Homo sapiens: one gene and its partners. The protein of the gene in region 2 interacts with the protein of the main gene of each other region in a biochemical or structural test. Each region holds a gene or a part of one and is shown on either strand. Other genes may lie near its edges.

Evidence for each region.
Region 1: the proteins of MCM4 (region 2) and MCMBP form a complex in vitro, tested with the Homo sapiens proteins (2 studies listed by BioGRID).
Region 3: the proteins of MCM4 (region 2) and SUPT16H form a complex in vitro, tested with the Homo sapiens proteins (one study listed by BioGRID and IntAct).

The regions. Positions count from the first base shown.
Region 1 is NC_000010.11:119,841,724-119,845,376, reverse strand, and holds part of MCMBP (mini-chromosome maintenance complex-binding protein), read left to right. Parts: intron 1-1,950; coding exon 1,951-2,123; coding exon of another isoform or gene 2,124-2,129; intron 2,130-2,781; coding exon 2,782-2,905; intron 2,906-3,653. UniProt on the Homo sapiens protein: Associated component of the MCM complex that acts as a regulator of DNA replication.
Region 2 is NC_000008.11:47,963,911-47,967,563, forward strand, and holds part of MCM4 (DNA replication licensing factor MCM4), read left to right. Parts: intron 1-663; coding exon 664-802; intron 803-2,276; coding exon 2,277-2,497; intron 2,498-3,454; coding exon 3,455-3,575; intron 3,576-3,653. UniProt on the Homo sapiens protein: Acts as a component of the MCM2-7 complex (MCM complex) which is the replicative helicase essential for 'once per cell cycle' DNA replication initiation and elongation in eukaryotic cells.
Region 3 is NC_000014.9:21,370,434-21,374,086, reverse strand, and holds part of SUPT16H (FACT complex subunit SPT16), read left to right. Parts: intron 1-656; coding exon 657-749; intron 750-1,390; exon of another isoform or gene 1,391-1,618; intron 1,619-2,042; coding exon 2,043-2,213; intron 2,214-3,598; coding exon 3,599-3,653. UniProt on the Homo sapiens protein: Component of the FACT complex, a general chromatin factor that acts to reorganize nucleosomes. The FACT complex is involved in multiple processes that require DNA as a template such as mRNA elongation, DNA replication and DNA repair.

The DNA of each region.
Region 1 (3,653 bases), on a different chromosome or scaffold from region 2:
CATTTTTGTTTTGTTTTGAGATTGCCAAAAGCAAGGGCTGATGTCCCTCATCTACACCAGAGTCCTCTTGTTGAATACCGGACATTAATCATCTTAGTTTCTGTGTAGGATGAACTTAACATTTTTCACAGTTAAAAAAAAATGGTACAAAACAAAAATTTTAAACAACTTTAAATAAGCTTAACCGTCCCTTAATAATAGTATATGAGATTGTTCATCTTGGCAATTTCTGATTGTGATGACTTTCCTGCTTTAGTTACTTCACTATTGATGTAGTTTAGTTTAGAGGTTGTATTAGGGGTCTCTAAAGGGTCAGAACTGATAGGATAGATGAATATATGAAGGGGAGTTTATTAGGAGAATGACTCACATGATCACAAGGTAAAATCCCACAATAGGCTGGGGAGCAAGGAAGCCAGCCTGAGTCCCAAAATCTCAAAAGTAGGGAAGCCACCAGTGTAGGCTTCAGTCCGTGGCTGAAGGCCTAAGAGCTCCTGGTGAACCACTGGTGTAGGTCCAAGAGTCCAAAAGCTGAAGAACTTGGAGTCTGATGTTTGAGGGCAGGAAGCATCCAGCATGAGAGAAAGGTGGAGGCGGAAGACTCAGCCAGTCTGCTCTTTACATGCCTGCCTTTATGCTGGCAGCTGATTAGATGCTGCCCACCCAGACTGAGGGTGGGTCTGCCTCTCCCAGCCCGCTGACTCAAATGTTAATCTCCTTTGGCAACACCCTCACAGACACATCCAGGAACAATAATTTTCATCCTTCAATCCAGTCAGATTGACAAAGTATTAACCATCACAGAGGTTAAGAGCACAGACAGGCAGGCAGCCTGGGTTGGAGTCCTGACTTGGCCACTTACTAGCTATGTCACCTTGGGCTTGGTTTCCTCATTGTAAATAAGGGTAGATGTGAGGTTTTGGTGAATTTGTACGTGTAAGGCATTGAACGTTGTCTGTCACATGGTACGTACTATGGAAAAGGTTATTATGCTTGTATTAAAAAATACAGGAGTATGAATTTATTACTTCAGTGTCTATAGATTCTATAAAGTCAAGATCTAAAAGATTAGCTATTTGTTTTGGTCGTCTCACAAATCTATCATCTGCAGATTTATTTAGCAAGTCTGAAAAATTCATACTTTCATTGCTTGTCTACTCAGTCTTCGAGGGATCATGTAAGAATTAAATTTAGGAAAAACAATTAGCAAGATAAGAGATGAATGGATTCTCCACACGCTGAATAATAGATACCAGATGGCTTTTGAGAAAAAGACCCCAGTTTTTGAGATCTGCTGTCAAGTATTCGATGTCCCGGCCAATAGTTCAAGGAGTACCTGTGTTTTGAAATAGCCTTATGAGTGACATCCTACATTCCATTTATTGAAGTGCTGAATAACAAATATTATTGTTTCTGGCCAGGCATGGTGGCTCACGCCTGTAATCCCAGCACTTTGAGAGGCCAAGGCAGGCAGATCACTTGAGGTCAGGAGTTCGAGACCAGCCTGGCCAACATAGTGAAACCCTGTCTCTACTAAAAATACAAAAATTAGCCAGGCATGGTGGTGTGCACCTGTAATCTCAGCTACTCAGGAGGCTGAGGCATGAGAATCGCTTGAACCCAGGAGGCAGAGGTTGCAATGAGCCAAGATCGCATCACTGCACTCCAGCCTGGGCAACACAGTGAGACTCCATCCAAAAAAAAAATAAAAATAAAAATACCGTTCTTGAAAAATTGAATAAATGCATTATTTCATGATATGTCTTAACAAGCCTGAAGTCTGTGTGATGTAACACTTTAGAATGAGAGGCCACTTTCTGTTCTTTAAGGAGATGTACAGGTGGAAATATTCTTGGCTTTAACTCTAATTTTGTTTTCCAAGATGCACATTATTTTTGCATCTGTGCAATTGATGTCTCTCTAAATTGAAACTTTATCACCTCTCCACAGGGATGCCTCTGCACTGCTGGATCCGATGGAGTGCACAGACACAGCAGAGGAGCAGAGAGTACACAGTCCTCCTGCTTCATTAGTGCCGAGAATTCATGTGATCTTAGCCCAGAAGTTGCAACACATCAACCCATTATTGCCTGCCTGCCTTAACAAAGAGGAGAGCAAAACCTGTAAGTGTAAGTGTTACAGCCTAGTCAACTATCGACTGTTAGCCTCAGTGTGTCCAGAGCTGCCTGTAACGTGCTCATAGTGGAATTGAGAGTCAGGTCTTCATTCCTCACAATAAGTGTTTTCAGTAATCTCTCTCTCGTTGCCCCATTTTTCTCTTACATTAATTCTCTTCACTGAAATGAGGACAAAAGAGTATACAAGGCTGGGTGCAGTGGCTCACGCCTGTAATCTTAGCACTTTAGGAGGCCAAGGTGGGTGGATCACCTGAGGTCAGGAGTTCGAGACTAGCCTGGCCAATATAGTGAAACCCTGGCTCTACTAAAAATACAAAATTAGCCAGGTGTGGTGGCGTGTGCCTGTAATCCCAGCTACTCGGGAGGCTGAGGCAGGAGAACTGGAGGCAGAGGTTGCGGTGAGCTGAGATGGCACCATTGCACTCCAGGCTAGGCAAAAAGAGCAAAACTTGGTCTCAAAAAAAAAAAAAAGGAGGATGCAAACTGCCTTATTTTTAAGATTAGCATCACTTACTGACGGATATGTTAAGCTTTACCTACTGTCGACTGAATTGTGCTTTGCTCACGTAGTTATTTTTTTACCTAAGACACTTGAGAGGAACTGGAGTGTGTGTCCTGACTCAGGTCTTCCTTTCTCCTTCAGTTGTTTCAAGTTTCATGTCCGAATTGTCTCCAGTCAGAGCAGAACTTCTTGGGTTCCTTACTCATGCCCTTCTGGGGGATAGTTTGGCTGCTGAATACCTTATATTACATCTCATCTCCACAGTGTAAGTGCTGTATCCTGGTGGGAATTAGGGGAGTTTGGTGTGTGTGGAAGTGGAAGAGCGGGAAGATTGCTGGTGTCATTTGTGTGTTTTCCTTATTGGGCTTCATCACATGGTTTTTATCTGTCCAGTGTTAACTGTTATACCAAATCACAGACAAATTCCTTTTCTCACAGTTCACATTTAGCATTTTGATTATGTCCCCTTAAATTTTAGAGCCAAAATCAGATAAAGCAGTGGTCCCCAACCTTTTAGGCACCAAGGACCCATTTCATGGAAGACCATTTTTCCATGGACCGGAGTGGGGATGGTTTCAGTATGAAACCGTTCCACCTCAGAACATCAGGCATTAGTTAGATTCTCATAGGGAACACACAGATGTGCAGTTCACAATAGGGTTCGCGCTCCTGTGAGAGTCTGATGCCACTGCTGATCTGACAGGAGGCGGAACTCAGGCGGTAATGCCCACTCATCCACCCCTCACCTCCTATGTTGTGGCCCGGTTCCTAACAGGCCATGAACCAGTACTGGTCCACGGCCTGGGCGTTGGGGACCCCTGAGATAAAGGACCTGGCTGATGAGTAAAATGAGCTGTTTTATCCCTTTTGCATTCTGAACGCTCTGTTTATACATCCCAAGGCGCCCACGTCATGTGCACGTTTAACGTGGACATTGACACTAGCACCGCATCCCTTGACTCCACTGTATTTCTTTGTTTCTCATTTTAAAACTAGTGTGGGCCTTTGACAAG
Region 2 (3,653 bases):
TGAATAAATATGATTTAACTTACTTTGGTATCGCCAGGCACGGTGGCTCATGCCTGTGATCCCAGCACTTTGGGAGGCCGAGGCAGGCAGATCACCTGAGGTTGGGAGTTCAAGACCAGCCTGACCAACGTGGAGAAACCCCGTCTCTATTAAAAATACAAAATTAGTCAGGCGTGGTGGCAAATGCCTGTAATCCCAGCTACTCGGGAGGCTGAGGCAGGAGAATTACTTGAATCCCAGAGGCAGAGGTTGCAGTGAGCCAAGATCATGCTGTTGCACTCCAGCCTGGGCAACAAGAGTGAAACTCTGCCTCAAAAATTAAAAATAAATAAATAAAAAACTTACTTTGGTATCACTTCATTATAGAAGGAAAATAAAGTGTGAGGTCAAAATCTTTTTCCCTTCTAATAGAAAGCAAAGAATATGCCAGTATACATCAAGAAGGCACTTTCGTATAAATTATGAAATTTAACCCAATTGAAAATATGCAGAAATAGATAGTTCAGCATACCTAAATTTGAAAACAGCACGTGCATGATTCTGTAGGGTAATACTTTGGGGACATGACATGTTGTCTTTTTATACTTTGCTAATCTGACATGCCTTTATTATATTTAACACTGAGATATGAATACAAATACATCTTCATATTTGTTTTTACAGGAAGTTATTCCAACTTTTGACATGGCTGTCAATGAAATCTTCTTTGACCGTTACCCTGACTCAATCTTAGAACATCAGATTCAAGTAAGACCATTCAACGCATTGAAGACTAAGAATATGAGAAACCTGAATCCAGAAGGTAATGTATTTTTCATAGGATTACTTTTGTTGAAGGAAAATGCCTTACATGAAAATAGCCTTGTTTTCATTGAGAAATTATGAAAGAAGTAATTGGCGGTGGTAGTCAAGGTGACGGATTATAAATTGACAATAATATAGATTCAGTTATCCTATATACTTATGAACCCCCTATACTTTTTAAATTTAATTGAAGTTTCTGATATAAGAGATGTGACTATTGGCCGGGCACAGTGGCTCACGCCTATAATCCCAGCACTTCAGGAGGCCGAGGCAGGCGGATCACCTGAGGTCAGGAGTTTGAGACCAGCCTGGCCAACATGGCAAAACTCCTTTACTAAAAATAGAAAAATTACCAGGGCATGGTGGCACACGCCTGTAGTCCCGGCTACTCTCGGGAGGCTGAGGCAGGAGAAACGCTTGAACCCGGGAGGCGGAGGTTGCACTGAGCAGAGGCTGTGCCATTGCACTCCAGCCTGGGTGACAGAATGAGACCCTGTCTCAAAAAAAAAAAAAAATTAGATTTTAAAGATTTGAGGATCACTTGAGGCCAGGAGTTTGAGACCAGCTTGAGTGACATAAGAGACTCCATCTCTTTTTAAGAAGAAATTAGCAAGGCACAGTGGCTCACACATGTAATCCTAGCACTCTGGGAGGCTGAGGTGACGGGCTTACTTGAGCCTGGCAGGTTGAGGCTTCAGTGAGCAGTGATTGCACCACTGTACTCCAGTCTGGGCAACAGGTTAAGACCCCATCTCAACAACAACAAAATTGTAGAGGTCTCATGAATCAGTGGCAGGATAGGGTGATCTTCACGGCTAGCAGTGGCTAAATACAGGCCAGAACAGGGTAGCTTGTCTGAAACCAGCAGGGGAAATTAGTTGCGGGCAGTGGGACCTTCAAAGGGAAAAAGTTGTCTGTCAGGAAAGGTTCAAATAATAGAGGAAACGAGCAAGAGTGAAAGATCAGAGCATCTAAGGGGTTCTCCTGTGTGGATAATAATGACTTTAAAGTATAGAGGACTTTTTCTCTACCAGGTGCTCTTACTAGGCTTGAAGTACATTGGCACGTTCAGTCCTTGGCTCTGGGATAGGTGCTGATACCACCCCATTCTATAGGGGACACAAAATGTACACAGAAAGGCTAGGGTCAGGACTCAGTCCAGGCTGTCTGGCTTTTTTCCTGACACAGCAGGGTGTCATACAGGAGGCCAGGTGAGTGAGGCAGGAGGCAGGGAGCAGGGTAGGCAGACAAGAAGGGAACGAGGGATGCCTGCTGGACAGGGGCCCTGAGGAAGAAGGGCCAGAGGTTCGCTGGGCTTGAGAGTCTCCTGAAGACATAGCCTGCAGATGACTGGACACAGAAAGGTCGCCCTAGGCAGAGTCTTGGGCACCTAGCTCCTGTCTGTGATCCCAGCTATTCCTGGACCTCCACACCTCAGGTCAGGTGTGCTGACCTCTCTTCTCCCCTCACAGACATTGACCAGCTCATCACCATCAGCGGCATGGTGATCAGGACATCCCAGCTGATTCCCGAGATGCAGGAGGCCTTCTTCCAGTGCCAAGTGTGTGCCCACACGACCCGGGTGGAGATGGACCGCGGCCGCATTGCAGAGCCCAGTGTGTGCGGGCGCTGCCACACCACCCACAGCATGGCACTCATCCACAACCGCTCCCTCTTCTCTGACAAGCAGATGGTGCGCAGCCACCCTGGCCCCCCAGGCTATGCTTTGCCTGTCTGTATCCTCAAAAGGCCAACTATAACTTGTCCCTCGGACCCTGAGCCTCACTTCCCGAATGGCATCCATCCCTCTCTGGTCTTGTGGGTTTCGTTAGTGGCCTATGGGCTAAATATGCAGAGCACGCAAAGCCCCTGCTTCAGGGCACTGTCCCTGTGCTGTTGCCAGTGGCACTGTCTGTTGTTAGAGACACTGTATTTTCATGGCCTAAAATGCTTCAAACGTTTGAGATGAGAATACTTGGTTAAATGTCATTCTGCTTTTTCCATTGGTAAAGGATTGAGGAATTTTTCTGAAATTTTTTCACAAATTTTACTGTCTAAGAAGTTTGGTCTTTTTTCTCTATATTCATGAAATTTTAAGATGAAGTTATTAAAATGACAGAAAAAAGTGAGGGGAAGGTAGAAAATTGCTTATTTACCGTGATTGTGACTGTAAAGATGTGGGAGGACAGGATTTGAGTTTTTCTGTGACTGCGTGTGCATGGTTTCTTTAATGTTGCATGGGATGGAGAGCTGGAGACAGAAAGGCAGGCACCCTGCTCCGCAGGAGCACATGGCCTCCTATTCTCAGAATCATGCAGGCCCCCAAAGTGGCTTAGAGAAAAGCCCAGCATCCTTAGGCCTCTCAGAGGGTACCTGGTTTGGAAAGGCCTTCCTCGACCCTGCTTTATGAAAAGCATCTCAGCTTCCCCCACCGCAGCTCCCTACATTCCTTCCCCTGTTTTGTTGCTGTCTGTTGCAGCAACTTCTTTAGAAGAAGTAATTTCTAAGGAAATAATGAGAAACATGGACAATCATTTATGTGGGGATATGCACTGCAGCCTTATATGGCAAAAGCAGTACAAAGACATGCAGATTTTGTCCCCCTGCCCTCTCTTTGTGGCCCACATGTTCTCTGTTTGCTGACCTTCAGATCAAGCTTCAGGAGTCTCCGGAAGACATGCCTGCAGGGCAGACACCACACACAGTTATCCTGTTTGCTCACAATGATCTCGTTGACAAGGTCCAGCCTGGGGACAGAGTGAATGTTACAGGTAAGAGTGTAGGTTTGCACCAGCACTTGAGCATGTCTGGCTTGCTTTCAATGCTGTGCTTTAGTGAGTCATTGGACT
Region 3 (3,653 bases), on a different chromosome or scaffold from region 2:
ATGAAGGTGGCTTATCTTTGAGAGTGCAAGATGATTTTGGAATATAAAAAATTAGTTTGGCCCAGGCATGGTGGCTTATGCCTGTAATTCCAGCACTTTGGGAGACCGAAGCAGGTGGATCACCTGAAGTTAGGAGTTCGAGACCAGCCTGACCCACATAGTGAAACCCTGTCTCTACTGAAAATAAAAAAATTAGCCAGGTGTGGTGGTGGGCACCTGTAATCCTAGCTACTGGGGAGGCTGAGGCAGGAGAATTGCTTGAACCCAGGAGGCGGAGGTTGCAGTGAGCCGAGATTGCACCATTGCATTCCAGCCTGGGCAACAAGAGTCAAACTCCATCTCAAAAATAAGTAATAAAATTTTAAAAAATAAAATATTTCTTTGAATTACACAGGACGTTTGTCACTGATCTGTGTTCCTGAACTATGAAACATAGATCTGGGGGCTAAGGAAAAATTTCTCTTGATATTTATCAACAATTAGCAAGTACTGTAAAAACAAAAAATAGAATAGCCGTAAGACTGCCAAACAGGCATGTACCTTAAACTTGAAATTTCTATCAGGAGAAAATTATGCCTGTCCTAGATAAATATTGAAGGCTGTATTCCTGTTTTGCTAGTGTGAAAAATTAAGTGATGATTACCCACTCTTTTCAGAAAGGAGAAGATGAGTATGCCAACGTTGATGCCATTGTTGTATCAGTGGGTGTTGATGAAGAAATTGTTTATGCCAAATCAACTGCCTTACAGGTGAGAGATTTACAGCAATTTTTAGCTCTTAGAGTTGTTGGATTATCTACTGCACTGTTCAGTATGGTAGCCACATTAAAACTTAAATTCCTGGCTGGCTGCGGTGGCTCATGCCTGTAATCCCAGCACTTTGGGAGGCCGAGGCAGGTGGATTGCTTGAGCCCAGGAGTTCAAGACCAGCCTGGACAACATGGCAAAACCCTGTCTTTACAAGAAATACAAAAAAATTAAGCAGATGTGGGGGTGTGCACCTGTAGTCCCAGCTACTCAGGAGGCTGAGATGGGAGGATGGCATGACCCCAGGAGGTAGAGGTTGCAGTAAGCCAAGATTGCACCATTGCACTCCAGCCTGGGCAACACAGTGAGACCCTGTCTCTTACTTTAAAAAATTTCAATTTCTCAGTCCCATCAGCTGTGTTTCTGGTACTCAGCAGTGGCTACCCCATATTGGACAGAGCAGATAAATGGTATTTTCACCATCACATAAAGTTCAATTGGATTTAGCAGTGATTTAAGACATAAGGAAAAAGAAGTATTAATATCAGTATGGATTTAGCTGCTATAACACAAAAACCTAAGTAACAGTGAGTTAAACAAAATATTCTTTTCCTTATGTATAGTCTTCAGGGACCCAGGCTTTTTCCAGTTCTCTGTTCTGCCACCCAAAGAACATAGCCCTCTTGCACGTGGTACAGAATGGCTTCTAGAACTCCAGGTGTTTCATCTACATTCCAAGCAAAAAGAGACAGAGAAGAAAACAGGAGGCCACCTTTTCTTTTTAAGAAGACTTGCTTGAAGCTCCACACACTACCATTTTTTACCTATTGGCCAAAATTTGATCCTAATGACCATACTTACCTGAAAGGAAGGTAAAATATCAGTTCTTTGAGAAGGAGAAATGAATAATTGGTAGGGAACTGGTAATTGAGGAGGTAATAACGCAGGGTTCTGTATCACTCTGTCCCTTGTTTTATGCATTTCTGTATCACTAAACATTGATATACTTCCTATAAACACAAATCGTTTAACTGATTTGATGGTTTTAATTATAGAAAGTTCAAGCATATAAACGTAGAGAAAATAATACATTGAACCCCATTGTCCTGTTCTAATAAATTGTCGACTCTTGGCCGATCTTGCTTAATTTGTATCCACTCCAGACTCCCCAGCCTGATTACCTTGGAGTTAATTTCAGACATGTTATTTTTGTCTATAAGTATTTCTGTATATCTATATGAGTCCATTAATTTTTGTATCTGTAAATACCGTTGTCACTGTTGTCTTTTTCCATAGACATGGCTCTTTGGTTATGAACTAACTGATACTATCATGGTCTTTTGTGATGACAAAATCATCTTTATGGCCAGCAAGAAAAAAGTGGAGTTCTTGAAACAGATTGCCAACACTAAGGGCAATGAGAATGCTAATGGAGCCCCTGCCATCACACTGCTAATACGAGAAAAGGTCAGGATTAATAAAGAATGTGTCATAAATGTGGAAGAATCTTCAAAAGGGATGAACAGAAATGCCTTATAGGAGTTTGAAAGAATGCGCAGGGGAAATTATAGGTGGCTGTGGTTGTAATTACAAAGTTCTGTCACGTCTTCATTGTTAGGAGGAAAAGAATTCAATAATCCTATCAGTTCTGCTGTAAAACAAATGAGCTATGAAATTCTGGTGAACACTGATTTTATGTCTCCATTCTTGAGGACACTGTTAGTTTGTTTTCATCTGTATGCCTTGATTAGAGCAAATAACCTTAAATATCCTTAAGGAAACTTAGATATACATCATTTCCAGTTTTTATCAAATGTGAATTTTTTTTGTCATACTGCCCACCTAACATGGGATGTTTTCTCAGAATATTGTTCACTTATGTGTTTGAGTTTCTTAACTGTTTCTGAAGAAAAAGGATAGTTGTATCAGACGTGGTGGCACACACCCGTAGTCCCAGCTGCTCAGGAGGCTGAGATGGGAGGATTGCTTGAGCCCAGGTGTTTGAGACCAGCCTGGGCAACGTGAGACCCCTTCTCTTAAAAAAAGGAATAGTCTGGTCAACTTACGGCAGCACTTTCACCTGAGTATATAAAAATATCTAAAGAAATGTTTTGCTCACTTTTGATATATTACAATCTTCCTTAAAGATGGGAAGGCATCTTACAGGTAGGCCAGGCATGGTGGCTCATGGCTGTAATCCCAATACTTTGAGAGGCCGAGGCGAGCACTTGAGCGCAGGAGTTCCAGATGAGCCTGGGCAACATGACAAAACCCCATCTCTACAAAAAATACAAAAATTATTCAGGAAGGCTGGGTGCAGTGGATCACTTGAGGTCTGGAGTTCAAGACCATCCTGGGCAAGATAACAAAACCCCATCTCTACTAAAAATATAAAAAATTAGCCGGGCATGTTGTCACACACCTGTAATCCCAGCTGCTCGGGAGGCTGAGGCATGAGAATCACTTGAACCCGGGAGGCTGAGGTTGCAGTGAGTGTAGATTGCGCCGCTGCACTCCAGCCTGGCAACAGAGCAAGTCTGTCTCAAAAAAAAAAAAAAATTTATCCAGGCATGGTGGTATGAACCTGTAGTCCCAGCTACTTGGGAGGCCGAGGCAGGAGGATTGCTTGAACTTGGGAGTTCGAGGTTGCAGTAAGCTGTGATCACACCACTGTGCTCTACCCTGGGGGTAGTAGAACAAGACCCTGTCTCTTTAAAAGTAAAAAGTAGGTGGGGATGGGAGGAGAATTAATTTTTTCCGTAGTTTAGAATATTATTCTACCTGTTACTGGTAAAACGTGTCTAATGAACTGGTAAAACATATGTGTCTTTTCTTCCCTATGACACTGACAGAATGAAAGTAATAAGAGTAGCTTTGACAAAATGATTGAAGCCATTAAAGAAAGCA